Linked DNA regions of Homo sapiens: all the other regions are linked to region 1. Evidence: fine-mapped expression QTL. A gene starts in region 1. Each other region holds a variant in brackets. All regions are shown on one strand. Distances are from middle to middle.

The links. PIP is the estimated chance that this variant, and not a neighbour inherited with it, causes the effect.
Region 2: its variant is fine-mapped to the expression of PYGB in whole blood (TOPMed, PIP 0.94).
Region 3: its variant is fine-mapped to the expression of PYGB in whole blood (INTERVAL, PIP 0.92).
Region 4: its variant is fine-mapped to the expression of PYGB in B cells (Fairfax 2012, PIP 0.95).
Region 5: its variant is fine-mapped to the expression of PYGB in whole blood (INTERVAL, PIP 0.96).

The regions. Positions count from the first base shown.
Region 1 is chr20:25,245,819-25,250,920 of GRCh38, forward strand. It overlaps PYGB (glycogen phosphorylase B), which reads left to right and starts at 2,267. Exons shown (of 20, transcript NM_002862.4): 1 at 2,267-2,603. The coding sequence starts at 2,361. RefSeq lists silencers at 1,299-1,552, 1,571-1,650, 1,831-2,020, 2,031-2,220, 2,531-2,910 and an enhancer at 2,301-2,380.
Region 2 is chr20:25,700,275-25,705,376 of GRCh38, forward strand. The region is part of intron 1 of LOC107985400 (a long non-coding RNA gene); the gene reads left to right. Among named protein-coding and RNA genes, the nearest start is that of ZNF337, 6.0 kb to the left of the region's middle. The variant G/A (reference allele first, on the strand shown) is at 2,677.
Region 3 is chr20:25,287,405-25,292,506 of GRCh38, forward strand. It overlaps PYGB (glycogen phosphorylase B), which reads left to right. Exons shown (of 20, transcript NM_002862.4): 15 at 1,021-1,079; 16 at 3,077-3,218; 17 at 5,002-5,102. Among named protein-coding and RNA genes, the nearest start is that of PYGB, 42 kb to the left of the region's middle. The variant C/G (reference allele first, on the strand shown) is at 2,993.
Region 4 is chr20:25,441,897-25,446,998 of GRCh38, forward strand. GINS1 (GINS complex subunit 1) reads left to right here. Exons shown (of 7, transcript NM_021067.5): 7 at 4,027-5,102. The coding sequence ends at 4,095. Among named protein-coding and RNA genes, the nearest start is that of GINS1, 37 kb to the left of the region's middle. The variant T/TTATCTATC (reference allele first, on the strand shown) is at 2,084.
Region 5 is chr20:25,617,440-25,622,541 of GRCh38, forward strand. The region is part of intron 1 of NANP (N-acetylneuraminic acid phosphatase); the gene reads right to left. Among named protein-coding and RNA genes, the nearest start is that of NANP, 4.0 kb to the right of the region's middle. The variant G/A (reference allele first, on the strand shown) is at 2,526.

The DNA.
Region 1 (5,102 bases):
GGATCATGGAAAATTTAATAAAGTGTAGCTATGAAAGAAAGGACTTAAAATTTATTTAACCAGAGTAACAAAGAATTAAAAGTCAATCCAGTAAGAGAATATATAGGCCTTAAATCAGCATCCATTAGTGAAGTCTGTGGCCTCTAGTTTTTCTTACTAAAACTTACTCCACTTACAAAAGAAATATTGTGGAAAAAACAGGAAATACAAAATGTATGGAGAAAATAAGATAACCCCCCTGATAATTCTTCCATTCAGAAATAACCAGTGTTTAGGTTTGGATATACACCTGTGTTTCTAACACAGTAGTCCCTAGCCACATGTGGTTATTTAATTTAAATTTAAATTGACTAAATGAAAGTAATATTCAAATCATTACTGTCATTTCTGCATTACATCCTTATTTTTGTGTTTCATTTATCAGTATTGTGTCATCAATCACACCTTCCTAGCTAGCTATTAAAACAGTCATTCCTTTTAGCAGCACAATGGTTTATGATATTAACTTTGAGCACAGATACATTTTTCTGGGCTTGTGCAGTGGAGCAGGGCTTGGCTGGGGTGAACCTTGGCTGTTTCCCTTATTAGCTGTGTGGGCTTAGGGAAGAGTTAACTTCTCTGTGGCTCACCTTCTCCATTGTCAAGCGGGGGTAATAGCAGGCTATTTGCAGGGATCAGGAGTTAATACGTGTACACTGCAAGTAATGATCAATAAGTGTCAGCGCCTCCATTCTTTGCCAGGTGTGCACCACAGCTGGGGGATTAAACTTTACCACACCACAGCAGATAACATATTTGCATAACTTGCTTTTTGTCTTCTTAAGCTTTCCTTGAACTCAATTCCCCAGAGTGGTAGAAGTGGTCATAGGGCACTATCATTTTTATGACTTCTGAATTGCCAGATCACCCTCAGAGAGATTGCATCAGTGTTCGGAGCTTGCAGCCAAGCTCGACCCCACAGCCCTGCCATCTGTGCCCGAAGTTCGATCTTGTTGGCTCCAGAATCCCTAGGACATAGTGCAGGAGTGAATCCCGAGCTGGAGCTGGGTGGGCTGTGGGGTCATTCCAGATTGATTAACCTCCGACCTCTGAAGTCTGCAGCTGGAAGGGGCTCCAGGTAAGAAGATAACTTTGAAGCATCACACCAGGAAACCTACTGCACCTGGACTTTCATGACATTTCCTGCGGGCAATTTTTACCTCCACGAAATTCAGTAACCTTTGCAGCCCCTTCAGCCCAAGACCACCAGGAGCAAACCTGTGGTCCACAAAATCGGGTGTACTGACCCACTGCAATGAGGGAGCGCCTCCCAAGAACGAAGGGAAAGGCAGAGTTTGAAGGGGTTGAGGGAAGGCAGAGTTTAGGTGACCTTTACATGAAGCAGGGTTCCCACAGGCTGAGGCCAGCAGGACTGTGTTCCGCGGGGCCAAGTGTGGGAAGCTGTGTGCAGACGCCCCCTATCTGGAGCTGCAGCCTGGATTGGGATGACAGAGGCTAAGTCTCGGTTAGTGGCTGAGCTCCCCGGCCAGACGGGCATGTTTCCTTCTCCCTGCTGTAATCTCAAAGCGGACAGCGTCTGCCAGGTGGTTTCGGGAACAGGGTTTCTCCGAGGGCTAGGGGGCTGCGGTCCCTCCGAGGCGGGGTCGTGGTGGCATTTGGCTGTGGCTGCCTCGCGCCCTCGGGAACGGGCGTCTCCAGCTCGCTGGCAGCTGGTTTTCTCCACGTCTGTCATCGGCCTGGAGTGGCAAGCAAATAGCTGGTATTTTCAGAGCCGCCCTGCCCCGGACAGAGAAGACCGGGCCCAGCAGGCGTTGGTGGATGCCTTTCAAGCTGTAATCAGTTTCCCCGAACGTGTACCAGGTCTCGGCCACAGCCCGAGCCCAGCGCGCTCCCGCGGGGCACCTGGTGACCCGGTGCAGGGCGGGAGGGCCGGTCCCAGGAACCCGAGGGCCGGAGGGCAGGGCCCCCTTCCCGCACCGTCCCCGGGCTGGCAGGAGCGGCCACGACGGCACGCTCCGAGGCCCCGGGTCCCTTGCCCCCTCCAGTCGCTCCCACTTTCTGCCGGGCTTGCCCAACGAGGGGGCAAACACCACGCTCAGGTGGCGTGGACAGGTCGCTGCCGCCTCGGACTACACCAGAGATCTCAGCTATGAGCCTGGACGCCCGCCCCGCCCTCCCGAGGCCCCGCCCCGCCCCCCGAGGCCCCGCCCCGGCGCGGCGCGCAGGCGCGGTCCATCCCGCCCGCAGAGCCGCAGTGCCGGGCGCCAGAGCAGCGGCGCCAGAGCAGCTGCACCATCCCGGCGTTCGCGTGTGCCGCCGCTTTCCTCCTCCATCTCTTTTCCTCCGCCTCCGCCGGCGCGATGGCGAAGCCGCTGACGGACAGCGAGAAGCGGAAGCAGATCAGCGTGCGCGGCCTGGCGGGGCTAGGCGACGTGGCCGAGGTGCGGAAGAGCTTCAACCGGCACTTGCACTTCACGCTGGTCAAGGACCGCAATGTGGCCACGCCCCGCGACTACTTCTTCGCGCTGGCGCACACGGTGCGCGACCACCTCGTGGGCCGCTGGATCCGCACGCAGCAGCACTACTACGAGCGCGACCCCAAGGTGAGGCGCTGCCCCGCCCTGTGCGCCCGTGCCCGCTGAGAGGGCGCCGGTCCCGGAGCCGCGCCAGCGGGGGTCTCTGCGGGGCGGCCCGTCGGGCGTTACCTGCGCCCCTAGCCGGCCGGCGGCCAGGCACAGCCGACTGGGGAGTCGCCTGGAAGCCGCAGTCGGCGGGGCCCGGGCGTCCCCTGCGCAGGGCCGCGGCCACGGGTCCGCCCCACTGGGAGCCCGCGCCTGGCGGGGTCCGCCGTCCCCCGCAGATGATGCTGAGCCCGGGAGCCTGGCGGACGTTCCCGGTCTCTTTCTGGCCGTGCGCTTCCGCGCTGGCTGCAGAGCCGGTGCTCCCCGCCCCTGCCTCCAGCCACTCTTTGTTTTCCTGCAGCAGCCTGTGGGAGAAAATGGGACTGGAACCAGGCCTGGGCAGCCTTGTGGGTTGGAATGGGGTGAGCTCGGTAATCTGCAGGGAATTGTGAGACTTTTTTTTGTGTACGCTGCTTAGAAGAAAATCACTGAAGATGCCTGCTTCACGCAGGGAGGGGTACGAAGCTCAGAGATGGAGATGGAGCCCTCGAAGAAGGCTCTGTCTTAGAGGTTCCCACACCTCCCTTGGAGAAATTTGCTTGGGTTGAAGTTGACAGAGATCATCTTACTAATTGTTACTTTTTATATCTTGCAAAAATTTGTTTGAGTAGTGAAACAAAGTCACTGATTGTCCCCGTTACTCTTAACCATGTTTACTATGGGCCTGTGTTCTTGCTGTGTTTTTGGTATTCCTAAATATACATACACATTTTTAAAAAGTATAATGCACATACAGTTTTTTAGATTTTCTGTTTCATTCGTAAACATTTGTAACTTTTTCACTGATAAACAGCTTTGCAGGTCAATGGATAGGATGGTAGTTTTCAGTTTGATAGGTACATGGTAGTCTTGCACAGCCCCCTGTTGCCAGTTTTTTGTTGTTGTCGTTTGCTTTTAAACTCTTGACCATGGAGAATTGTCTTTCTACTACACTAACGTAGAGGGAGAACTGGTGAGGAAAAGACACACTTCCAGACCTGAAGCCACTTGGCAAAGATTTTACTTGCAGTGTACATCTAGGCAGTGAGCACTTGCTTTATGGATGGTATTTTAGAATATTTTTGTAGGGCATTAAGATATGTTTAATACGGTAATTGCTAAGAGATTGACTGCTTTTCCAAACTTATTCTGGGACATTCTTTTTTCTAAAATGGAGATGGTAAAAGGGACAGATTTGTTAGAATACCAACTGGGGCTCTTCATATTTGGTATGCAAAACATAGAAGTGGCAACGAATGGCCAAAACAGGTTATAACAAGGGCTTGGGATGACTTTGCCAGGAAAAGCAGCCAAGAAGCAGTGGCTCCCCCAGAATTCCCTGCTGTTGGGAGAGTTCTGATGCACAGCACCATTTTTTTTTTTTTTTTAATTCTGAGTCTTGCCCTGTAGCGTGAAGCTAGAGTGCAGTGGCGCGATCTCGGCTCAGTGCAACCTCCGCCTCCCGGGTTCAAGCAATTCTCCTGCCTTAGCCTCCCAAGTAGCTGGGATTACAGGCGCCTACCACCACGCCCGGCTAATTTTTTGTATCTTTAGTAGAGACGGGGTTTCACCATGTTGGCCAGGCTGGTCTCAAACTCCTGACCTCGTGATCCGCCCGCCTCGGCCTCCCAAAGTGCAGGAGTTACAGGCGTGAGCCAACGCACCCGACCCGCAACATCATTTTTATTGTCTAAGTGGCGGATGGCAAGGACATAGCTCTGCCTTCACATTCAAGGGCATTTCCTTGGAGCTGGACCAGGACTCAGCTCTACACCTTAGGGTGCCCATTGGAGTATTTATGTATAATCACATCCTGGAGAGGCCAGCGATGGGCTCAGGGATTACGGAAATGACCTTCATGAACAAGATAGTCCCTGCAACAAAACAGGTTTTTTGATCCTCCGTGAGATCTCTTTTGATTGTCTACGTGTGGTGGCTCTGGGTGGAAACCTTTCTCTTAAACCGCACAGTCTGTAAGTCGTAAAGTTGTAAACTTTTAGATCTCACAGTGTGTAAATAAGCTGTGTGCCTATTCTGAATAGGAAGGACATGGAAAATTGGGATTTAACTGCTTCTTTCGCTAATTCATGATGAAAATAAGCTTGCAATCCTTTCTTTGGAAAAGTTACATGCTTGCTGGTGATGGACCAGCAACCAGTCCCACCAGAGCCAATGAGAGGAGGTGTGCTCCCAAGAAAATAACTGCTGTGCCTCCCCCTCAGCCAGAAATGACCTCAGACATTCACCGGCACACTGCAGACTGTGGTAATGTGACACTCTAGAGCTCCTAAATAGAACGCTTTTATTGTTATTTTTGTCTTTTTTTAAATTATGCAAGTCCTGAAGGAAAAATTATTACTGGAGGAAAAATTAGAAAATATAGATAAGCCAGAAGGAAAAAAATTAACTGTAATCCTGTAACCCACTTCTATCGCCCACTTT
Region 2 (5,102 bases), 450 kb after region 1:
TGTATGGTTTTGGTGTTAGGATAATACTGACCTTATAGGATGAGTTTGGAAGTGATCCTTCTTTCTTTCTTTTTTTTAAATAGTTTGCATAGATTGATACTAGTTCTTTATAAAATGTTTGGTAGAATTCAGCAATGAAACCGTCAGGTCCTGGGCTTTTCTTTGATGGGATACTTTTTAATACTGCTTCTATCTCATTTGTTATTAGTCTACTCATGTTTTGGATATTTTCATGGTTCAATCTTAGGTTTTATGTATCTAGGAATGTATCAGTTTCTCCTAGATTTTCCAAATTAATAGCATATAGTAGCTCATAATCATTTCTAATGATCCTTTAAATTTCTATGGTATCAATTGTAATGTCTCCTTTTTCATTTCTGATTTTATTTGTTTTGGTCTTCTGTTTTTTCTTAGTCTGGCTAAAGGTTTGTGAATTTTACCTTTTTTAAAATTATACTTTAAGTTCTGGGGTACATGTGCAGAACGTTCAGGTTTGTTACATAAGTATACACATGCCATGCTGGTTTGCTGCAGCCATAAACCCAGCATCTACATTAGGTATTTCTCCTAATGCTATCTCTCCCCCAGACCCCCACGGTCCGACAGGCCCCAGTGTGTGATGTTCCTCTCCCTGTGTCCATGTGTTCTCATTGCTCAACTCCCACTTATGAGTGAGAACATGTGGTGTTTGGTTTTCTGTCCTTGTGTTAGTTTGCTGAGAATGATGGTTTCCAGCTTCATCCATGTCCCTGCAAAGGACATGAGCTCATCCTTTTTTATTGCTGCATAGTATTCCATGGTATATATATGCCACATTTTCTTTATCCAGTCTAACATTGATGGGCATTTGGTTTGGTTCCAAGTCTTTGCTATTGTGAACATTGCTGCAGTAAACATACAAGTGCATGTGTCTTTATAGTAGAATGATTTATAATCCTTTGGGTATATACCCAGTAATGGGATTGCTGGATCAAATGGTATTTCTAGTTCTAGATCCTTGAGGAATTGCCACAATGTCTTCCACAATGGTTGAACTAATTTACACTCCCACCATCAGTGTAAAAGTGTTCCTATTTCTCCACGTCCTCTCCAGTATCTGTTGTTTCCTGACTTTTTAATGATCACCATTCTAAATGGCATGAGATGGTATCTCATTGTGGTTTTGATTTTCATTTCTCTAATAACCAGTGATGATGAGCATTTTTTCATGTGTCTGTTGGCTGCATAAATGTCTTCTTTTGAGAAGTTTCTGTTCATATCCTTCACCCAATTTTTTTTATTTTTATTTTTTGTAAATTTGTTTACCTTCTTTGTAGATTCTGCATATTAGCCCTTTGTCATATGGATAGATTGCAAAAATTTTCTCCCATTCTGTAGGTTGCCTGTTCACTCTAATGATAGTTTATTTTGCTGTGCAGAAGCTCTTTAGTTTAATTAGATCCTATTTGTCAATTTTGGCTTTTGTTGCCATTGCTTTTGGTGTTTTAGTCATGAAGTCTTTGCCCATGCCTATGTCCCGAATGGTATTACCTAGGTTTCCTTCTAGGGTTTTTATGGTTTTATGTCTTACGTTTAAGTCTTTAATTCAACCTGAGTTAATTTTTGTATAAGGTGTAAGGAAGGGATTCAGTTTTAGCTTTCTGCATATGGATAGCCAGTTTTCCCAACACCATTTATTAAATATGGAATTCTTTCTACATTGCTTGTTTTTGTCAGGATTATCAAAGATCAGATGGTTGTAGATGTGTGGTGTTATTTCTGAGGCCTCTGTTCTGTTCCATTGGTCTATCTCTCTGTTTTGGTATCAGTACCATGCTGTTTTTGTTACCGCAGCATTGTAGTATACTTTGAAGTCAGATAGGGTGATGCCTTTGTCCTTTTTTCTTAGGATTGTCTTGGCTATACGGGCTCTTTTTTGGTTCCATATGAAATTTAAAGTAGTTTTTTTCCAATTCTGTGAAGAAATCAGTGGTAGCTTGATGTGGATAGCATTGAATCTATAAATTACTTTGGGCAGTGTGGCCATTTTCATGATACTGATCCTTCCTATCCATAAGCATGGAATGTTTTTCTGTTTGCTTTTGTCCTCTCTTATTTCCTTGAGCAGTGGTTTGTAGTTCTCCTTTAAGAGGTCCTTTACATCCCTTGTAAGTTGTATTCCTAGGTATTTAATTCTCTTTGTAGCAACTGAGAATGGTAGTTCACTCATGATTTGGCTATCTGTTACTGGCGTAAAGGAATGCTTGTGATTTTTGCACACTGATTTTGTATCTTGAGACTTTGCTGAAGTTGCTTATCAGCTTAAGGAGATTTTGGGCTGAGATGATGGGGTTTTCTAAATATGCAATCATGTCATCTGCAAACAGAGACAATTTTACTTCCTTTTTTCCTAACTGAATACCCTTTATTTCTTTCTCCTGCCTGATTGCCCTGGCCAGAAATTCAAATACTGTGTTTAATAGGAGTGGTAAGAGAGGGCATCCTTGTCTTGTGCCAGTTTTCAAAGGGAAGGCTTCCAGCTTTTGCCCATTCAGTATGATATTGGCTGTGGGTTTGTGATAAATAGTTCTTATTATTTTGAGATACATTCAGTCAATACCTAGTTTACTGAGAGTTTTTAGCATGAAGGACTGTTGAATTTTGTTGAAAGTCTTTTCTGCATCTATTGAGATAATC[G/A]TGTGGTTTTTGTCATTGGTTCTGTTTATGTGATGGATTACGTTTATTGATTTGCATATGTTGAACCAGCCTTGTATGCCAGGGATGAAGCTGACTTGATCGTGGTGGATAAGTTTTTTAATGTCCTGCTGGATTTGGTTTGCCCGTATTTTATTGGGGATTTTCACACTGATGTTAATCAGGGATATTGGCCTGAAATTTTCTTTTTTTGTTGTGCCTCTGCCAGGTTTTGGTGTGAGGATGATGCTGGCCTCATAAAATGAGTTAGGGAGGATTCCCTCTTTTTCTATTGTTTGCAATAGTTTCAGAAGGAATGGTACCAGGTCCTCTTTGTACCTCTCATAGAATTTGGGTGTGAATCCATCTGGTCCTGGACTTTTTTAGGTTTGTAGGCTATTAGTTACTGCCTCAATTTCAGAAGTTGTTATTGGTTTATTCAGGGATTTGACTTCTTCCTGGTTTAGTCTTGGGAGAGTGTATATGTCCAGGAATTTATCCATTTTTTCTAGATTTTCTAGTTTATTTGCATAGAGGTGTTTATAGTATTCTCTGATGATAGTTTGTATTTCTGTGGGATCAGTAGTGATATCCTCTTTATCATTTTTTATTGCATCTATTTGATTCTTCTCTCTTTTCTTCTTTATTAGTCTGGCTAGCGGTCTATCTTCTTGAACTTTTCAAAAAGCCAGGTCCTGGATTCATTGATTTTTTGGAAGGTTTTTTTTGTGTTTCTATTTCCTTCCGTTCTGCTCTGATCTTAGTTATTTTTTGCCTTCTGCTAGCTTTTGAATTTGTTTGCTCTTGCTGTTCTAGTTCTTTTAGTTGTGATGCTAGGGTGTCAATTTTAGATCTTTCTTGCTTTCTCTCGTGGGCATTCAGTGCTATAAATTTCCCTGTATACCCTGCTTTAAATGTGTCCCAGGGCTTCTGGTACGTTGTGTCTTTGTTCTTATTGGTTTCAAAGAACATCTTTATTCCTGCCTTAATTTCGTTATTTACCCAGTAGTCATTCAGGAGCCAGTTGTTCAGTTTCCATGTAGTTGTGTAGTTTTGAGGGAGTTTCTTATTCCTGAGTTCTAATTTGATTGCACTGTGATCTGAGAGACAGTTTGTTGTGATTTCCATTCTTTTGCATTTGCTGAGTAGTGTTTTACTTCCAATTATGTGGTCAATCTTAGAGTACGTGCGACGTGGTGCTGAGAAGAATGTATATTCTGCCGATTTGGGGTGGAGAGTTCTGTAGATGTCTATTAGTTCTACTTGGTCCAGGGCTGAGTTCAAGTCCTGGATATCCTTGTTAATTTTCTGTCTTGTTGATCTGTCTAATATTGATGGTGGTGTGTTAAAGTCTCCCAGTATTATTGTGTGGGAGTCTAAGTTTCTTTGTAGGTCTCTAAGAACTTGCTTTATGAATCTAGGTGCTCCTTGTATTGGGTGCATATATATTTAGGATAGTTAGCTCTTCTTGATGCATTGATCCCTTTACCATTACGTAATGGCCTTGTCTCTTTTGATCTTTGTTGGTTTAAACTCTGTTTTGTCAGAGACTAGGATTGCAACCCCTGCTTTTTTTTTCCTTTCCATTTGCTTGGTAAATATTCCTCCATCCCTTTATTTTGAGCATATGTGAGTCTTTGCACATGAGATGCGTCTCCTGAATACAGCACACTGATGGGTCTTGACTATTCAGTTTGCCAGTCTGTGTCTTTTAATTGGGGGCATTTAGTCCATTTATATTTAAGGATAATATTGTTTTGTGTGAATTTGATCCTGTCATTATGATGCTAGCTGTTATTTTGTCAGTTAGTTGATGCAGTTTCTTCCTAGCATGGAAAGTCTTTACAATATGGTATGTTTTTGCAGTGGCTGGTACTGGTTGTTCCTTTCCATTTTAGTGCTTCCTTCAGGAGCTCTTGTAAGGCAGGCCTGGTGGTGACAAAATCTCTCAGCATTTGCTTGTCTGTAAAGGATTTTATTTCTCCTTCGCTCTCCTTTGCTTATGAAGCTTAGTTTGGCTCAATATGAAATTCTGGGTAGAAAATTCTTTTCTATAAGAATGTTAAATATTGGCCCACACTCTATTCTGGCTTGTAGGGTTTCTGCTGGAAGATCTGTTTTTAGTCTGATGGGCTTCCCTTTGTGGGTAACCCGACCTTTCTCTCTGGCTGCCCTTAACATTTTTTCCTTCATTTCAACCTTGGTGAATCTGAAGATTTTGTGTCTTGGGATTGTTCTTCTCGAGGAGTATCTTTGTGGTTTGTCTATATTTCCTGAATTTGAGTGTTGGCCTGCCTTGTTAGGTTGGGGAAAGTTCTCCTGGATAATATCCTGAAGAGTATTTTCCTACTTGATTCCATTTTCCCCATCACTTTCAGGCACACCAATCAAATGTAGATTTGTTTGGTCTTTTCACATAGTCCCATATT
Region 3 (5,102 bases), 42 kb after region 1:
GAGGCTGAGGCCTGATGACTGTTTGATGCCAGGAGTTTGAGACTGGTCTGGGCAAAAAAGTGAAACCCCATCTGTACTAAAAGTGAAAAAATTAGCTGCATGTGGTAACCTGTCGGTGCCTGTAGTCGCATCTACTTGGGAGGCTAAGGAGGGGAAGATCACTTGAGTCCAGGAGTCTGTGGCTGCTGTGAACCCGGATTACACCACAGTACTCCAGCCTGGGTGGCAGAGCTAAACCTTAACTCTTAAAAACAAAAACAAACAACAACAAAAAAAACCCAAGAGTGGTAGAGTGCGAGGCGCGGTAGCTCACGCCTATAATCCCTGCACTTTGGGAGGCTGAGGCGGAAGGGTTGCTTGAGCGTGGGAGTTTGAAACCAGCCTGGGCAATGTAGAGAAACCCTCATCTCTACAAAAAATTAAAAAATTAGCTGGGCGCAGTGGCACGTGCCTAGGATCCCAGCTACTCAGGAGGCTGAGGTGGGAGGATTGCTTGAACCTGGAAGGTAGAGGCTGCAGTGAGCTACGCTTACACCACCGCACTCCAGCCTGGGCGACAGAGTGAGCTGCTGTCTCAAGAAACAAAACCAAACAAAACCCACAAGTGTGCCCTTCATGTACAGGGGCCTTGAACACTGGTGACCAGACCCAAGGAGGCTCCTGTGTTGGGCTTTTCTGGAAACTGAGGTGCAGCTTTTCCTCTGAGCCCCGGGGAATAGCATCTTTGCTCGAGTCAGCTGCTGGGTTCGTCCATGGTCCTGGCTGGCCTTCCTCACCAGCGGGGAACCTAAGTGCAGACCTCAGGGTGGCCTCACTCCCTTGTAAGTGGCAGGTTCCTGGTGGGTGGGCAGGTGGGTGGCCAGTGGCCCTGTGCCACTGTCACCCGTGTCTCTGGGGCTTGAAGTACATGGCGGAGCGTGCCTGTCCTGCCTCAGGGTCGGCCTCTGATGCTGCTGGGCCCCAGCAGGGGCTCGTCCGGCTCGCGGTGCCTTGTGTGAGTCTCTTCCGTGTGTCCTGCAGGAATCAAGAGAGACCCGGCCAAGGCTTTTGTGCCCAGGACTGTTATGATTGGGGGCAAGGTGAGTGACTTCCTCTGCAGTCCTCTCTGTGGTGTTTGGTCTGGGGATAGTGGGTGGGCAGCCTGCACGCTTCTCATGGTGCCACCACATCCATACTCGGGAACCGGATGCCCAGCGGTCACCGGCCCCTCTGGTATGCCTGTGGGGGTGGGGACCCTGTAGAGAGTCAGAATGGGATGGAAGCCTCCTGCCTGCCCAGCTCACTGGAGGGGTCCCCAGCCTAGAGGGCCAGTCCCCAGTGGGCTTGCTGGTGCCCACCTCAGAGAGGGCAGTGTCCTTTCTCTTTGTGCCCAGTGGGCACAGGGCGTTGTGGCTGCTTCATCACCTGCACATGCCCTGAGCATTGCCTGGTTTCAGTTCACTTTATTTACTATGACACATACTTTCAGAGTCCTAGATGTGCTGTCATCGAGTCCCAGGTCACATCGTCACACTCATCAGCCCTCTGCGGCCAGTGTCCCCACCTCCTGCCATGTTTCCCTAGTAGCTTGGTCTTTATCCAGAACTGTGAGGCTGCTGTGGGGTGCAGCGTCCTTAGGAGGGTCCTGCTGGAGCAGTGGCCCTAAGTGAGTCTGGACTGTGTGAGGCACCCCAGCCCTCCACGGCAAGGCCGGGGCCTGGGGGTGCTGGTGCCTGTGTGCAGCCTGAAGGCTGCCCTCTTGCTGCCTTCAGCGAGTGGGAAGCTGGTCAGAGGGGTGGGCACTCCTCTGGGCTCCGCCACCTCCTGGCACACCCCATTTGGTCTCTGTCCACTCCTGTCACCTGCTGTTTTTGAAGCAAATTTTGGAATTGTGTCATTTTATTTGTCAGTATTTCAGTATGTAAAGTCCATAGAGATACGGAGTTCGAAAAAGTTTTAAATGTTATTATGAAAATTTTAGGCTGGGCACGGTGTCTCACGTCTGTAATCCCAGCACTTTGGGAGCCAAGGCGGGTGGATCGCATGAGCCCAGGAGTTCGAGACCAGCCTGAGCAGTGTGGTGAAACCCCATCTCTACAAAAAAGTGCAAAAATTAGCTGGGCGTGGTGGTTCATGTCTGTAGTCCCAGTTACTTGGGAGGCTGAGTAGGAGGATCGATTGTCCTGGGTGATTGAGGCTATAGTGAGCTGTGATTGCACTACTGCACTCCAGTGTGGGCAGCAGAGCCAGACCCTGTCTCAGCAAAAAAAAGAAAAAAAAAAGAAGGAAACATTTGAACCTGGAGAAAAGCAGGAAGAATTGTAGCAAAACCATAAACCTGTCACCCAGACTAGCTGAAGCATTTCACAGTAAACTGCAGACACTCTAGCTCTTCACTCTTACATACGTCAGCATTCCTTTTCATAAAATGATGTTTTCCACCAGAACCACAATGGGAGTAGACTGAAACATCACCACACAGTACCACCATCCGTCACACCTAAAGCATTGGACAGGAGTCCTCCGTGTCCTGAAATGTTCACTCGGGTACTTCATGGGTCCCCTGCCCAGTTGTCTTTGTAAAGTAACAGACATTTCTAAAAGTTGGTCTGAGTGAGGGCCCAGTGAGTCCTCACCTTGGACTGGCCGTGGTGTCTCAGTTCTCTGTAGGTTTTCCCCACAGTCTGTCTGTTACAGACATCGGGTTGTCTGTCCGCCGTAGCCTGGCTCTTTCCGAATGTGTCCCTCCAGTGTGTCCCAGTATGTCCCTAGGGACAGTTCTCTGTTTCCTGTCAGTCGGCAGCTCTAGAAATCCTGGTCTCTTTTACCTTGTAATTTCTGAAAACCTAACAACAACCAGAAAACCAGACTTGAGGCGGACACGTTTCTGGATGTGGCGAGGTGGCCACCATCGTGAGTGCGCAGCAGAGCTGGGGCCTTGGGGCCGGGGAGCCTCCCTAGCTCCTCTACTGACCGTCCCGACGGCAGGTTCCTGTGGCTCTAGCCTCACCCC[C/G]CTACAGACCCCAGGAACCAGGAGCGCCTCCAAGGGCCTGAACAAGGCATTTTTGTGCTAAAAACCTTCACCCTCTCCTTCCAGGCAGCGCCCGGTTACCACATGGCCAAGCTGATCATCAAGTTGGTCACCTCCATCGGCGACGTCGTCAATCATGACCCAGTTGTGGGTGACAGGTTGAAAGTGATCTTCCTGGAGAACTACCGTGTGTCCTTGGCTGAGAAAGGTAACCCTGGAAGCCTGTGTTGGACAGAAAACTCACTCCTGCCGGGGAACGGGCGTTGTACTGGCCCCGGGCCTTTCATCCTCAGCCAGTTCAGCTCTGCCTGGACACCCAGACCTAGCCAGCCGGGCTGCAGGCGAGCAGGGAACGGCTTTAGGGAGTGCTCCCCGTGCAGTGCGGAGGACTCACAGTGCGTCCCGGGGCGCCTTGCATGTCACAGGCAGTGTCATCCCCCAACAGGGCACCCTTACTGCCGCGCCTGCCTGGCCTGCCCTCTGTATCCTCCCTCCCCTGCCCTCTCCTCCTGCCCCTCAGCCGTGCCTTCTGCCCTGGGCCCCTCTGCTGGCAGGACCTGCCTGGCCTGCCCTCTGTACCCTCCCTCCCCTGCCCTCTCCTCCTGCCCCTCAGCCGTGTCTTCTGCCCTGGGCCCCTCTGCTGGCAGGACATGCACCAGGCCAGTGGGGTTGTGGGCCCCCAGCTTCCCCCAACTCCACTGCCCCTCCTCCGCCCACATCCTTGCTCCTCACTGCCTGCCTGCTCTTGGGCCCACCAGTGATCTCAGGTGGCAGCACCTGCCTCATCTGTGCTTCCTGAGGGCAGCCTGGGCCAGTCCTGGGGAGACCCTGGGATGTGCTGCCATGTGCCCTGGAGCCCATCAGTTCCCACCCCTGTGGGCTCTACTGGGCAGGAAAGTGATTTGCCCACCAGATGGTGGGAGATCTGAGCCTGGCCTTCTCGTGCTCCCCTCCTGCCGCCGAGGGCCAAGGGCCCCCCCTAGTTCAGGCCGCCTGGGCTTCCCAGGCTGCCGCAGGTGAGAGGGCTGATCTGCTGTTGTTCTGCAAGCTCCGTGGTGCAGGGGGGGATCCCTGGGCACCGTCCCTGTGGCCTGGCTGCTGCCTTGGTGTCCATGTCGCTCCCCCTCTTTAGTGGTGCCTGGCAGGCGAGGTCCCTTGAGGCACTCACGGGCCGGCTTGCCTCCGGCTTGGCCAGGAACTGTGGCTCGTCCTTCCCTGCTCCTCTGACCGAAGCATCTCCTCTCCCCCGTGCTGCCTGAGGCTCCCCTCCTCCTATGTGTTTTGGGGCCAGCTGACTCCTGCTCATCTTTAGAGCAGGCCTTCAGGCACCTGGTCTGGAGTCTCGGTGCTGGCGTCAGGGCCCCGTTCTCCCCGGCAGTGTTGCTGTGGCTGACTGGGCTGCAGCCTGAGGTGAGGGTGGAGAGCAGGTTGTATAGTCAGTGTGTGCACTCACAGCGTGTCTGGGAGCGGTGACCAGTCCTGAGGGACAGGCACAGAGAAAGCGCAGGGCCGTGGCATCTGGCAGCTGCTGGCGCCCAGGAGGTCGCCACCCCTCAGCCGCTCCAGCCTTCTGGCTCTATTCTGGTCTACATTCCTCCTGAAAGGATCCAGGGAGCCGCTGGGGCTGATCAAGGTCGCGGTGATCCAGGGAACGACATTGTCAGCGAGCCAGGACTGGCTCCTTGGCTAGGCCTGGTTTTGGGGAAGGTTTTGGTGCACAGATCCTATGCCACCTGGCTCCTGAGGAGCCCCCATCTTGGACCTTCTGCCTCAAGGATGCCCCAGTCACGAAGGGGAGCCCTGCAGAGGCGGGTGGCCGTGTCCAGCCTGGGCCCCTGTGGGAGCGGGAGTGGGGGCTGGAGCGGGGCCACAGCATTGGTCCCTCCACGACCCAGCCCCGGGTGGATGGGCCGGCTTGTCCTGCAGTGAGCCTTGCGGCTGAGGACATTGGGGTCCTCACAGTGATCCCCTCCACGGGCTCCCCTCCACAGTGATCCCGGCCGCTGATCTGTCGCAGCAGATCTCCACTGCAGGCACCGAGGCCTCAGGCACAGGCAACATGAAGTTCATGCTCAACGGGGCCCTCACCATC
Region 4 (5,102 bases), 200 kb after region 1:
AGTATAATATACCCTGTTCTGTACTTTTTCTGAATATTAAGACTGGAAGCAAATGTTGCATATAATAAAAGATTCATTAATTTAGTAGGATATTGCTTATATTTAAAACTAGGTGTTTTCTAGGGGAATTACCATAATCAGCCTTATTCTGGGTAAGTGATAGATTATTATCTGGAGGCTATTGAACTGTTGGATTTAGCTCCTTTGTTCATATAATTTATTCTAAAAGTTCCTAAGCAGTTTTTTTAGCTTACACTTTGCCTTATAAATCCTAGTTCTTTAGCAAGCAAATAGTGATACAGATTTTTCTGTTTTCAAAAGAAGAATTTTCAAGTATTTGGTATATAAACATAACAATTTAATAGAGGAAGATTAAAATTGTAAAGTTGTAACTTAAGCTAAATTTGTCCTTATAAGGAATCTTTATCCATCTATCTATCTATCTGTCTGTCTGTCTGTCTGTCTGTCTGTCTGTCTATCTATCTATCTATCTTTAAAGAAAATAGAGATGGGGCCTTGCTATGTTGACCATGCTAGTCTCAAACTCTCCTGGGCTCAAGCAATCCACCTTCCTTAGTATCCTAAAGTGCGAGGATTACAGGTGTGAACCACCATGCCTTAAGTAATCTCAGTATATTAATTATTTCCCTAGAAATCTTCATATTCACATTAGATGAATTCACGTTAACTATATTATTACTATTATTATTATTATTTTTTTTTTTTTTTGAGACGGAGTCTTGCTCTGTTCCCCAGGCTGGAGTGCAGTGGCGGGATCTCCACTCATTGCAACCTCTGCCTCCTGGGCTCAAGTGATCCCCCACCTCAGCCTCCCCAAGTAGCTGGACCACAGGCACACGCCACTACACCCAGTTAATTTTTGTAATTTTTGTAGAGACGGAGTTTCACCAGTTGGCCAGGCTGGTCTTGAACTCCTGAGCTCAAGCAATCCACCCACCTCAGCCTCCCAAAGTGCTGGGATTACAGGCTTAAGCCACTGTGCCCGGCCACTAAATTTTTTATCCTATCCCAATTTTCTGAAGTCGTGAGGAGGAAAAATGACCTAATAAAAGCTGTTCTCTTTCTTTCCTTGCCTGCTGTCTTGGGGTCAGCCATTTAGGATCTGTTGACCCTAAGGATTTGGTGTTCACTTTGTTCATGCCAGGGAGCAAAAGAATGTTTCAGGTCATGTGGTTCTTGAGCTTATTTTCCTAACAGGGTGAGTTGATCTCTTATTTTACTAATACCCTTGGATCTTTAAAACTATTTTACTAATAGTTGACTAAAATTATTTTACTAATACCCTTGGAGCTTCTAAAACAAAGGTTGAATATTTTTAAAAAAGATTTTGAGGGTTCCCTAAAGTCTTCAGTTGTTAAGGCAACAATTTCTGTCCCAAGTATTCTCTTAGGACACTAATGAATTTAAAGCAGATAATGAATTAATGCTCTGATAAGCAGCTATATTTCTGGAGGGCCCAGGAGGAAGCTCTGGCACAAGAACAAGAAAAAAGCCATCCTCATAAAGCAAGATATGTGAAATGTCCCTTCATCCCAAATGCTGTCCTGTGGTTGAATTTCTTTTTTTTTTTTTTTTTTTGAGACAAAGTCTCGCTCTTGTCCCCCAGGCTGGAGTACAGTGGCATGATCTTGGCTCACTGCAACCTCTGCCTCCCATGTTCAAGCTTTTCTCCTGCCTCAGCCTCTCAAATAGCTGGGATTACAGGCGCCTGCCACCACGCCTGGCTAATTTTTGTATATTTTTTAGTAGAGGCGGCGTTTCACCATGTTGGCCAGGCTGGTTTCAAATTCCTGACCTTAGGTAATCCGCCCACCTCAGCCTCCCAAAGTGCTGGGATTACAGGTGTGAGCCACCGCACCTGGCCTGGTGGTTGAATTTTTTAACTCTGTTTCTCAGCTGTGACCCTACCCTCAATTATAAAAATGGAGGCATGAAAAAGAAACAATATCAGCCACAGTTGATGGTTGGTATTAGGGGCTTCTAATGTTCAACCACATCCAAACTTTCTGTAGAATCTGTGGTGTAGATCATTCACATACTCTAAAATATTAGTAGGAAACAT[T/TTATCTATC]TATCTATCTATCTATCTATCTATCTATCTATCTATCTATGGTTTTTTTCGAGATGGACTCTCGCTCTGTCACCCAGGCTGTAGTGCAGTGGCGTGATCTTGGCTCACTGCAACCTCTGCCTTCTGGGTTCAAGCAATTCTCCTGCCTCAGCCTCTCGAGTAGCTGGGATTGCAGGCGTGTGTCACCATGCCTGGCTAATTTTTGTATTTTTTTTAGTAGAGGCGGGGTTTCACCATGTTGATCAGGCTGGTCTCAAACTCCTGACCTCGTGATCCACCTGCCTTGGCCTCCCAAAGTGCTGGGATTACAGGCGTGAGCCACTGCGCCTGGCTGGGAAACATTTTCTAATATACATTCTTTTATATTTGTCACTATGGCAAGCACTGTTACTTTTTATCCAGAAATCAATACTCTCCATCTGTTTAATACCAGCATTAGTATGGACATTAAATGAACAACTCAGTTATTTTGTTTTTGTTGTGTTTTTTTACATTTTTCTTGGCTCATGTATCTTCAAGATTGGTTTAGAAGAATTTGGTCATGGGTCTCTTGCCAGGCCTTTGAGTTTGTGAGGCAGGACCTTCAGGTGCACATGGCTACTGAGGTTACATTTTGCTTCCTTGAGATCTTCCTTTGAGATTTCTTTGACCACCTATGAATTGAAAAGCCTTCCTGCCTTGCTTCCTTAACCTCCCTCCTCCAAGGCAGTCAGTGTTTTCTGTAAGTCCTGGTATTTGAGAGGGAAGGAGACATCTTTCCACCTGCCCCTGGTTCCCTCAGAGCAAGAGCGATGTCCTCTTAGGAAGACACAGGACAAGCAATACCTGGGTACCGGCATCTTCCCATGTACCATGTGAATAGCACCCACGCGGTGGGTCATGAATACTTTTCAACCTTGAGACATACAGGAGGAAAGTTGTCACTTGTTATTAGAAGAATGTTCAGACTCTGAAATCCAAGAACAGGTTTTATGGAGAAATGAGCGTTTCATGGGTCTTCTTGATAGGCTGTTGAGCCAGTGATAATCCAAATCGCACCTATCTGGATTTCTCTGTGCATAAATTTTAAAAATATAAACACTAAGTACAATACCTACTAGAATTCAGAAGTCTTAGTTGAATTGAACTTAAGCAAACTGAATTCATTTGTAAAAGTCAGAATTCCATACAGCTCTAAATGGAATCAATTTCAATGGATTAAAACAGCAAATATAGTTTAACTTTTTTTTTTTGAGATGGAGTTTTGCTCTTGTTGCCCAGGCTGGAGTGCAATGGCACAATCTCGGCTCACCCCCAGGTTCAAGTGATTCTCCTGCCTCAGCCTCCTGTGTAGCTGGGATTACAGGCATGCGCCACCACGCCTGGCTAATTTTTTTTTTTTTTTTGTGACAGAGTCTCACTCTGTTGCCCAAGCTGGAGTGCAGTGGCACGGTCTCGGCTCACTGCAAGCTCTGCCTCCCGGGTTCACGCCATTCTCCTGCCTCAGCCTCCTGAGTAGCTGGGACTACAGGTGCCCGCCACCATGCCTGGCTAATTTTTTTGCATTTTTAGTAGAGACGGGGTTTCACCGTGTTAGCCAGGATGGTCTTGATCTCCTGACCTCGTGATCCACCCGCCTCGGCCTCCCAAAGTGCTGGGATTATAGGCGTGATCCACTGCCCCTGGGCCAACTTTGTATTTTTTAGTAGAGACGCGGTTTCTCCATGTTGGTTAGGCTGGTCTTGAACCCCCGACCTCAGGTGATCCGCCTACCTTGGTGTCCTAAAGTGCTGGGATTTCAGGCATGAGCCACCGTACCCAGCCCCTTAAGTTTAACTTTCAACTACTTACTTGTTGGAGTTTGAAAACTAATCAGTGCTACTTTTTAATGATACAAGAAATAATTTCAAATTCTTTCCCAATCATTTATTTTACTCTTTCTCCATCCCTTCTTGTCCCCTCAGCACTTTTTACCTCGATGGAAATGTGAGCAGCTGATCAGACAAGGAGTCCTGGAGCACATCCTGTCATGACCATGCGCCGAGGCACTTCCAGGCTTCACTCAACTCATGGACTCCTCTGTACTCACTCTCTCCACCACTCCCTTCACCTCCCTCTTTGATTTTAGAAGCTATAGACATTGTTTAAGATAACTAAGAATACTTGGCTAAGAAGTATAATTTGCTAACTATTAAGGACTTTCTTTTTTTAATGTTGTACACTATTCTTCCTACTCTTTTTTGGTTTTGGTTTTGTTTTGTAGAGACTGTCTCACTATGTTGCCCAAGCTGGTCTCAAACTCCTGGCCTCAAGCAGTCCTCCCACCTTAGCTTCTCAAAGTGTTGAGATCACAGGCGTGAGCCACTGCACCCGGCCCCTACTCCTTTTTCTAATAAGCTGTATCTGTAATCACAGCATTCCTACAGTTGTTACAGTGTGTTTTTTAAATGAAAGTAAACATGGTTACATTTGAATCTCTTAAATAAGCAGTCACTTGGCTGGACAGGAAGAAGGTAGATCCTGTGTGTCTTGTTTTCTGGTCATGTGTATTGTACAAGCTAGAGAGCTGAATTTCTGAGATACACATTTTCAAATCACATGCAAGTGAAGATGATGGTCTGTAGAAATTTTCAGTATATATAATGTTTAATGACATACTAATTTATCATCTGGCTATTTGGGAAGGAAGGACACACATGGATTTTGCACATTTCCACCATGGTGGCTGGTGTGGCTTGTGGCTATGGGGTGATCACCAGTATCACCACTTTGGAAGGGGACAGTGAAATTGGGGCTAGAGAAGGAACTTTGTACAGTTTTCCCTGAGATTCAGATTGACTGAAAAGTCACATGAAGAGTTGATTGTCTTTTAATGGTATGTTTTAAACAGCTGACATTTTAAATTTTGATGAAATCCAGTTTATTCGTTTGTTCTTTTATGCTTTGGGTGTTGCATCCGAGAAATCTTTTCCCATCCCAAGATCACAATTTTTTTTCCTTTTTACTTCTAGAAGTGTTATAATTTTAAGCTTTATACTTT
Region 5 (5,102 bases), 370 kb after region 1:
GACCTCAAGTGATCTGCCTGCCTCGGCCTCCAAATTACTAGGATTACAGGCGTGAACCACTGTGCCTGGCCCAATTCTGTACTTTTTTGTTTCTGGATACAGAGTCTCGCTCTGTTGCCCAGGCTGGAGTGCAGTGGTGCAATCTCAGCTTACTGCAACCTCTGCCTCCTGGGTTCAAGTGATTCTCCTGCTTCAGCCTCCCGCGTAGGTGAGACTATAGGTGCCCGCCACCATGCCTGGCTAATTTTTGTATTTTTAGTAGAGGCGGGGTTTTACCATGTTGGCCAGGCTAGCCTCGAACTCTTGACCCCAAGTGATCTTCCTGCCTCTGCCTGCCAAAGTGCTGGGATTATAGGCATGAGCCACTGCGCCCGGCCCCAATTCTGTACTTTTGAGTTAAATACTCCCTCTTCCTGCGTTCCCAAGGCTCTTTATGTGGCTTTTATAACACTAATCCATTTGGCCTGTCTTGTAACTTTTCCTAAAACCCCTAATGTGGCAAGCATTGTACTACATACTTACATACATTATTTCTAAACTTTTCTACAATCCTGCAAGACAGTTCCATGTTCCAAATTAGGCAGGGAAGTGCAGAACTGTTAATAACTCGCCCATCTGGGATCTGCATCCATACCTGCTTACTTCCAAAGCCCACATGCTTGCCTTTGCACTATGTGTTAAGCACTAGAGACTGGCCTTTGTCGTTGAGGCATTATCTGGTGGGGAATATAATATACAACCACTACAAATCATGGGCCGGGGGTGGGGGAAATGCCATGACAGTAGTTTGAACAAGCTGTGGGAATAATATGGAAGTCATTCCACAGGGTAGCTGGCAGAGGAAGTCACATTGAGACCAAGGAGTAAACAAGCAGAAAAAGCGGGTTTGGGAAGAGAAGAAAATCATTCCAGACAGAGGAACAGCATGAACAAAGGCCAAGAGTTTAAAATTTTGTGGAAAAAGCAAGAAGCTGAGTTGAGCCCAAATGGAGGCATGTGAGGGAAGATGCCAAGAGATGCAACTGGGGAACCTGTTCACAGATAGTTTGTGAAGGGCCTTGAACCCCATGTTATAGCAGGTGCTGCCTAAATCCCCTTGGCACACACTATATTCACTCGCCAGTGGCTTCCCTCTCCAAGTATGGGCCTCTCTGCTTGTGGGCTTTACTTGGCCACACACAAGGGTATCTATACACACAGGATGGGGCTAAAAAGTATTGCCCTGGGAGCAGCCCTCAACAAATGTAGGGCAGAAACTGGCGAATAAATATCACAGCTTCCTTGCCCCTTGGGGAGCAAAACTGAACCCTGTTCTGTGTACTGTCCCCCAGAAATCTCCAGCTGCTCACAGCAGTAACCTGGTCATTAAGCTGCTCTAACCCGTATTGGACTCCTTCCCCTTCTTGTCTCCCCGACCCCTTAACGTGTATCCTGGGATCGCCTCAAGAACTGTCTGCACTGGAAATCCTGTGTTCAGGTGAGCACCTGAAGAAAGTCAAACATGCCAGGCAATGCTGGCTCTTTGAAATGCACCCAGCTACAGTTAAAATATATCTGTTGTAATGGGACTAGGGAATAAACAGTATGCCACTCACACCAAAAACTCAACTCACCTACTGAGAGAGGAACGCATGTGTTTTTCTTCCCTCAGAGTAAAAGAATCACAACAAAGGAAAAGGGTCTTTTTTTTTTTTTTTTTTCCCCAAACAGGATCTTGCTCTGTTACTCAGGCTGGATGGAGTGCAGTAGAGGAATGATTATAGTTCACTGTGGCCTCAAACTCCTGGGCTCATCTCACTTCAGTCCCCCGAATAGCTAGAACTACAACTGCACACCACCATACCCAGCTAATAAATTTTTTTTGTAGAGACGGGTCTTGCCATATTGCCCAGGATTGTCTTTAACTCCTAGCCTCAAGCAATCCTCCTGCCTTGGCCTTCCAAAGTGCTGGGAATTACAGGTGTGAGCCACCGTGCCTGGCTGAAAGGAAAATATTTTTTGAGGTATTTGTGCTAATCAGAAAATGTATCAGAAGACTTGGCCATATGAGAAAAAAAAATTAAAGAAAAAAGAAAAGAAAATGTAATCATTAAGAAAAATCTTATCTGCCCAAGAAAAATATACCAGCCCTAGGAATTTTAGGTAAAGGCAAAACGCTGTAAATTTTTGCTTTATACATCTCTATGAACAAATAAAGCTTTCTCAATCTCCATGTTTATCTCACCATCTTTGCTAGCAACATCAATTGAAGGACTCTTAAGCTATGATTGACAGGAGCTCCAAAGTTTCAGCAACCCTACAGCAGTGCAAGGACACATGCCTCTAGGACTCCACAGAGCTTGCGCTTAGATACGGGCTGGCTCATAATCAGCTCCTATACAGACCCAATTTCCTACTGGCTCCCAGTACAGACCCAATTTCCTGTTACTTCAACTGGCACTTCATTAAGCACATTCTTGGGGCTCTGAAAAAGCAGGATTTGCTCACCTTAAAAGGGAGATGTTTATAAAGGCATGGTATGCCAC[G/A]CCCAAGTTTCAAAATCTCTTCCTATTCTATCCCTTCAATTAACTTCCTCATTTTGTCATACAGCAACTAATTACAGGTTGGTATGCGACAATAAGTAGCATTTTAACAATATTAACATCTTTAGGAAAAAAGTTTATCAGCATTCATTTATTAGTTCAAACAGAAATTAACACCTACCCTGAATTAGTATGCGTTATTACAAACTCTCCTAACACCTGCACTGAAAATGGGAGTATTGATTGAATTGGAGGTGAAGGAAAAAGCTCTCTAACTTGGAGGCGTGATGATACTTTGTGTCTGACTGGTAAGGCAGGGCTGAAAAAGATTTTGGTATAAAGAGCCCACAAGGTGCTCGCTGGCCTGAAGAAAGGGGCCCTGCTCTGACAGAAGGGCTATCCGTTAGTAGATCAATATGAACTCAAACTTCACCCACTTCAAAACTCTATTTTAAGGCTCTCTCTGAACGTATACGAAAAAGGAAACTCTATTCTTCTGTCTGCTCCCTAGACCCAGAACTAAAGTTAGTATCATCAATACTTTAGTTTAGCTAACTGATTTTAAAAGACTTTTTGAGGGCTTAGTTTGGAACCATCTAATACTTTACAACACTTTAAGAAAAGTGTATTCTGAATACTAATCATTTGGATATGAAGCGTATAGCAGGTGCACCTGACAGCACTAACTTACGCACACCCTTAGAATGACCCTGTGGTCTATGAGGAATGTGTATTCGGGTTCCAAGATAAGGAGTCCAGGAGTGTCCAATCCAGAGATTCATTCCTTATTTATGAGGAGGATCTGAACCATGGCCCATCCCATCCTGCGGAACTCAGGTTGCAGAGGGGATAGAGGCCCCCCTTTTTTTTTTTTCCATTAAATGAAGGTAGCCAGGAGGAGGTTGCTGCAGGGAGGGTGCTAAGTGAAAATGCTATATAAACTGCATTCTTTTTACAAGTGGCTGCAGTTCTGTCCAGCCCGCCGCCAATGGACCGTCTTGTATATAAGTTCCCTCAAAAACCGTTCCTCATTTGCTGGCTCCGGGTCTCATCTTCAGCCTCTTGAACATGGTGCTATCCCTACTGAAATCAATAGGGATCCAGCACGACAGAAGGGGATGAATTCCAAATAAAACTATTAACAATTTTAAAACACGCTCACAAAATGAGGCCTGCACTCAGCCTAGCAATTCAAGCAGCGCTTCTGTTATTTTTATTTCAAGTCTGTGCACAAACATCACCTACTCGATGAGGCCAAATCTGACCAGTCTATTTAAAATGTTGATTTGTTACCCTCTCTGCTTTTTCTATCACACCTGTAAATATTTATTATGTTCACTGCCATACCCACTAAGAAGTAAATTCACAAATGCAGAAATCTCTTCTGCTTTGTTCACTGAGAAACTCCAGGCTTCTGTAGAAAAGTTCCTCTTGAGTAATTACCATGAAAAACAGGTCTAAAGAGGGAGAAAAAAAATAACTTCCCTAGGTGATTAGAAAAAATTAAAGTTGATACATACAGTCAGTATATGACCTCTTCTCCCCAAGCCCAAGGCCATAAATGGCTGGACCTTTCCCTCTTCCTCCATTCATAAATTATTATTATTTTTTGAGACGGAGTCTGGCTCTGTCGCCCAGGCTGGAGTGCAGTGGCGCGATCTCGGCTCACTGCAAGCTCCGCCTCCCGGGTTCACGCCATTCTCCTGGCTCAGCCTCCCCAGTAGCTGGGACTACAGGCGCCCGCCAACACACCCGGCTAATTTTTGTATTTTTAGTAGAGACGGGGTTTCACCGTGTTAGCCAGGATGGTCTCCATCTGCTGACCTCGTGATCTGCCCATCTCGGTCTCCCAAAGTACTGGGATTACAGGCGTGAGCCACCGCGCCCGGCCCATTCATAAATTATTTACAATGATTTGTAATTATAAAGGAGGCAGTAATAGAACCAAGTCTCGAAGTAAAAATTTGTATCCATCCATCCAGCATTTATTCAACATTTGCCATGTGTCAAACGAGGATAATTAAGACAGCTTGTTCCCTCCCAAGAAGCTCACTATTTAGTAGTAGGCACCTGAGTTGCAAAATTAATTGAAATATCCTTTGACAGATGCATTAAGAAATATCTGAACAAAATACAGCACTACTATAAGTGAGGGTGTAAAGACCAGGGAGGCATACGATTTAGTCTTTGTTTTAAAAATATTGCTGTGGCAAGAATGTGGAGGACACACTGGATGTGGTAAACCTGGAGACAAGCCCACAGCAACAGTCTAGGTGAGAGATGAGTTCAGCTGTAACTGAGACATGCACGGGGCATGTGCAGTGGTGGACAGACAGCGTACGAGGGTGGAAGGTGCTATAGTTCGCTGAGTGGACACTGCAACCATGGGCTTCCCAAGTATTACAGGGTTATTGAGGACTAATATAATTCACATTTTATGAAGATATAAGGCTCCGAGTGGTTAATTCCTTGAGGCACTTTCAGCTAGGTTTTGGGAGAGCTGTGATTCATATTCAAATGTCTGATTTTAAAGCCCAAACTCTGGGCCTACAGCAAGAATTGGCCTAAAGCAATAATTTA